Regions from separate parts of the Homo sapiens genome. Here region 2 is linked to region 1. A link means that fine-mapping ties the variant in region 1 to the expression of a gene that starts in the linked region. Tissue or cell type: tibial nerve. Region 1 holds a variant in brackets; the other region holds the start of a gene. All regions are shown on one strand. Distances are between the middles of the regions.

Region 1 (2,500 bases):
AGGTTAGGGAGGTTAGGGAGGTGAGGGAGGTTATGGAGGTGAGGGAGGTTATGGAGGTTAGGGAGGTTAGGGAAGTTATGGAGGTTAGGGAGGTTATGGAGGATGGCAGCAGAGTCCAAGAAAAGAACTTAAGTAGTGTCCTCAAAAGTATCCAGCCTGGAGCCCTGCACTGAGGAGTGCAGAAACCAGTTCAGAGGGAAAAAGAGAGAAACATCTCTGCAAGCCTTATTGCCTCCTGAGCTCAAAAACCCTAACTCATCCCCTCTCTGCACCACAGCCCTAAACTTCAAATTGTTTCTCACTGCCAATCTCTCCTATTCAACATGCTCCCCTCCCTTCTTCTTTTTTTTGAGACCGAGTCTGATTCTGTCGCCCTGGCTCTGTCGCCCAGGCTGGAGTGCAGTGGCGCGATCTTGGCTCACTGCAAGCTCTGCCTCCTGGGTTGATGCCATTCTCCTGCCTCAGCCTCCCCAGTGGCGGAGACTACAGGCACCCGCCACCATGCCTGGCTAATTTTTTTGTATTTTCAGTAGAGACAGGTTTTCACTGTGTTAGCCAGGATGGTCTCGATCTCCTGACCTCGTGATCTGCCTGCCTCGGCCTCCCAAAGTGCTGGGATTACAGGCCTGAGCCACCGCACCCGGCCTTCCCCTCCCTTCTTCTTTTAGGCGCTGTTTCATTAAACATTATCAGCATCTCATTAAATACACAATCTGCAAAATGGAGGGCACTGCCCTGCTCAGTGAAAAGGGCTGCTTTCCTTTTTGAGGGGACACAGCCTGGGAAGAAGAGAGAAAGAGGCTGGGCACACAGCGCCGTGGGAGAGCAGCCCCAGAAAGGGTGAGCACCGTGGGGCGAGGCCATGGAAAGGGGGTGGGAAAGACCCCCACCTCCAGCCCAGTCTCCACTCTCCGACCCAGCACCAGGTTCAGGCAGCACACACATTGCCCGCTGCTAGCCTGGTGAGAGGGCGCAGGAAGATGGCACTATGATTAGCTCCTAT[C/T]GGGTCCGAGGGGTAACCTAATTTACTGCTTGGCCATAACTGCATTTCTCAGAGAGCAAAGGCAGAAGGGAGTTAGAAACCAAAATGGCTTTTGTGAGATTAACAACTAGAGATGATTCTTCCCGCTAGCTGCAGAGCTGTACCCACTTGGAGATCTTTAAGGGTAGGAATAACAAGAACAAAAGTTTCATAAAGTAAGCCGGCTTCTTTAACTGGGCATCTCGGCTATCCCTCACATTGTACGATGGCCAGCTGCAATCAGTAATTTCTCCCCTCAGTGTTTCAGAAAAGACTAAAGCTTTCCACGGGTACAGCCCCATTTTGCCATCACCTACCTTTCTCCCCCTCATTCTCATCCCACTGGAAAAATCCTCACGCTGGTAAGAGCTTTGGCTCTCTTAGGATTTCCACTTCAAGATCCGTGACTGCTGAATGCCACTTGAATACTGATTTAGACCCTCTCCCTAAGAAGTTGTATCTGACAGTCCAATGCTACTACTCTACCACTGGCACATAGTTTGGGGGTAGAAATAGTATGGTCTTGGAAGGGGAACAGTGGGCAGAAATGGGAAGTCATTAAGGCCCTTTACAATACGCACATTTAGGATCAGCATCCCATCTGAATGCCAGATGGGTGACTGCTTTACAGTGAATGCTATTTGCATTGGTCAACACTGCTAGCAAAAAGAATTCTGGCTCTTGGCTGGGTGACAAGAGCGTGCAAAAAGCAAGGGGAGGGGGCCGTCCCCCATATCCCTTCCCGCTGCCCCACCACCACAGCGTGCCCCGTGTGCTTGGCTCTCAGCATCCCATGCCACGGGTTCATGCTCTTTTACCCTCTCATGGTGGGGGCTCTGCTTGCCACGGTTGTCAGCATCAAGATCCCTGTATGTCTGTTGGCAACAAAGTAGAAACTTAAGCTCCATGCATATCGCTCTATTTGGACCTACTAAACGACAGTGGGAAATTCAGGGGCAGAAATGCAGAGTTCAACACATATCGCCTTCCCCTACTAACCCCATCCCCAGGTAACCATAATCCCATCTGTATCAAATCCCATGACACAAGGCCGACTTTCTGCACAGCCATTCCACCCCCCACTGGCCTCCGACGAGGCCAGCTACACGGATCAATGAAGAACTATGGTTAGTACAAAGGTGGAACAAGCATATTTCTTTCACACAGTGGCATAAGATCAGAGGCATCAAATGGAAGGTTTAGAAGGAGAGGCAGGTTAAAAGGGTGACACATTCCACAACAAGACATTTTAGAAAGCAAAGGTGGGGAGGTGGGAATTGGCTAGAATAAATGACTAAGACAGCAGTCCAGAGGAAACTCCAGAGTGGGAAGTGGTTCCTGAATAGGAGCATCGGGCCAAAGCATAATTTACTAAAGGGAGAAGTGAATGTGTTTTTGGCGAATGGACGGGAAGGTATATGTGAAAGGGTAAAGACCTGCAGGTAGGGACATGGCCTTGCTCATCCGAGGAGCCAGAAG
Region 2 (2,746 bases), 150 kb after region 1:
CCAATAAGAAAGCATTTTAGGGAGGAGAGAGGAGGGAAGGGGTTGGCAGGCACGGAGAGGACTTGACACACAGAAAGCATTTTGCTATGGAGTCATAACCATTTGATTCTAAGACACATGCAGCCTCCAGAAGTCATGCGGCCCCGCCCTCTGCTTCCAGGAGGGAATGAACTTGGCCGTCCTTTTGTTGCACACGCCCGGGAGCTGCGCCGGCGCAGCGCGCCCTGCAGCCTGGGAGCGCAAGCGTGTGCGCCACTGGTCCTGGGCCACCACCGCGCGCCGCGGGCGGGTGCAGGGCCCCTCTGCCGCAGGGAAACCGGCGTTCCCCGCGCAAAGCAGCCGCTGCTCCTAATGAGCTCATGGGTTCACCGCGCTGAGCTAGCCAGAGCGGACCCGGCTTCGCCAAGGGCCTGCTGGCTGTCCTGACACCTGGCCTACCTCGGGGGTGCCTGGGTACGCTCTTCCTTTGCCTGCGGGATAGAAGCACAATGAAAATGGGGTGGACGTGGCTGGGAGACAGCCCTGCTCTCTGGCAGGCTCTGGGGAGTGTGTGGTACGTGGCATCCGCACTGGTGGGTGTCGTGCGATGATCGAGACACGGATACTGGGTGTCTTTCCCACTAGGGGAGAGAGGGCTGCGTTTAGAGGGAAACGAAATAGATCCGAGAAACACAAAGATGTCACAAAGGAAACGCTTCCCCACCATAAGCAATCTAAATAAATGATTCTTAGAAGACATCCAGCAAAACACATAACCTTGTCATTTAGATTCGCTCGCCCACAGGGGGACTGGAGGGTACTCACCGACTAGGGCTTCACAGCCGCATCACCGCCGGCGGTGGGCGCCTGCCTCGGCAGGGGCAGGGTGGGTGCCCGCAGGGCACAGGTGCCGCCGTGGCTGCTCGCACAACCCCTGCAGCTGCGATCCCGCCCAGTTAGCCTCGGGGGCTGCACAGCCCAGCCCCCTCGCCCAGGGCCCAGGGGTTCTCAGGCCGCGCGGCGAGGACGGAGGGCTGCCCCGGGTGCCTGCCTACGCGGGCGCTCCCCGCCGGGACTCCGCCGGGGCTGCAGGAGCGCGCGCTGCTGGCTGGGCGGGCTGCGGCTCCGCGCGAGCGCCGTGGCAACGCGAGCGGGCGCCCCCAGGAGGCCGCGGAGCTGCGGCGTGGGACGCTTGGGTGAGGCTCAAGCCAAAACCAAACCCAAACCATTTCTCCTCCTCCCCATCTTTTCATTTTCTCCCCTTCTTTTCATTTTCTCCCCTTCTCCAACCCCTTCCTCGACACACGTTACTAGCACCTCGAAGGTTGGAAATTCCAGCACTCTCCTGAGGCCTCTTCCCCAGCGAATCCTGCTAACCACGCAGTCGGTGTTCGCTGTGTGTTCGAGCACACACCTCCTTGCAGTGGCTTCAGCACCCAGGTCTCCGGGAGCCAGTGAAGGAACCAAGTGTTGGATACTGAGCAAGTCGCGTAACATCTGAGTAGTCGTGAAATTGAAATTTCAACGGTATAAAGGACACGACGTTGTCTTACAGATTGAAAAATGCTATAAAATGAAGTTCTTACTGTTACTATGATGATGACCCTGGAGATCAGCGCAGAGCCCTGGGGGAGGGCTACAGTTGCAAGCGCTCCAAGGATCAGATCGCGCACTCCTCCCCACCGGAGAAAACCTCTTGATGCCGGAGCCCGGGCAGCCTCTTCCACACTTCCAGCCAGCCCCTTCCACACTTCCAGCCAGCCCCGGCATTGCCACAGCCCGTGGAGCTGGACAGAAATCCACCAGGCACTAAAATAAGTTAGATGGAAGACGGGATGGATTTGACCAAATTCCTATCAGCATCTGCTCAGTATAATTGCAACATTATAATCAGAGCAGAAAGAAGCCCAGAGATTATTTTGTCTTCAAGGATCATTGGCCTCAGTATTATCTCCATCTGAAGCTGTGTTGTCCAAAGCAGATTGACTCCAGCCGGCCAGCTCAGAAGAGGGCCGACTCTGGGCTGGCGACTCCTTGAGAAGGGCTCTCTCTGGTCCCAGGTGGTATTTACTTAACCGTATCATCATCTGCTTCATTCGTGTTCCCTTCATGTCCATCATGTGAGGACGGGAACTGACAGGGCCAGGGTGTCGGCTCAGAGGCAATCTCTGCTCATCCTCTAGAGCCCCACTTCATCACCCAGCCACTCTGTCCACTGTCTCCCCACCTACAAACCTGCAGGTGTTCTGCCCCAGTACTAGAATAAGGGAACACATTTTTACTGAGCTCTGACAATGTGACTGGGCTTTTCAGGAGCTATTTCATTTAATTTTTAATGTAAAACATTGTTTTACATATTAAGAACCTAAAAGCACAAACAGTAAGTAACTTGCTTGTGGAAGCTTATGCAGCGAGATAAGTGGTAAAGCTGCAATTCCCAGTTTTGTTTGATGCCACAGCTGAAGGTGCAAGGCCATCTGGGCACGGCCTGAGTGGATATTAGGGAAAAATGCCCTAAAAGGTCCAGAATCTCTAATAATTTCTCCTACTTCTCATTTTATTTTATTTTTGACGCTGGAGTTTTTTTTTTTTTTTTGAGTCAGGATCTTGCTCTATTGCCCAGGCTGGAGGGCAGTGGTGCAATTTCAGCTCACTGCAACCTCTGCCTCCCAAGTTCAAGCGATTCTCCTGCCTCAGCCTCCTGCATAGCTGGGACTACAGGCATGCACCACCATACCCAGCTAATTTTTGTGGAGATGGGGTTTTG

Alleles and levels. Alleles are on the strand shown, and positions count from the first base shown. SD is a standard deviation of normalised expression in the study named.
For the expression in tibial nerve of the gene that starts at base 1,085 in region 2, allele T in region 1 goes with a higher level than allele C (moderate effect, 0.59 SD a copy in GTEx).

The links. PIP is the estimated chance that this variant, and not a neighbour inherited with it, causes the effect.
Region 2: it holds the start of MICAL3, and the variant in region 1 is fine-mapped to the expression of MICAL3 in tibial nerve (GTEx, PIP 0.92).

Annotation. Positions count from the first base shown.
Region 1 is chr22:17,877,507-17,880,006 of GRCh38, forward strand. The region is part of intron 16 of MICAL3 (microtubule associated monooxygenase, calponin and LIM domain containing 3); the gene reads right to left. Among named protein-coding and RNA genes, the nearest start is that of LINC00528, 100 kb to the left of the region's middle. The variant C/T (reference allele first, on the strand shown) is at 1,004.
Region 2 is chr22:18,023,477-18,026,222 of GRCh38, forward strand. It overlaps MICAL3 (microtubule associated monooxygenase, calponin and LIM domain containing 3), which reads right to left and starts at 1,085. Exons shown (of 32, transcript NM_015241.3): 1 at 805-1,085. RefSeq lists a silencer at 813-1,222.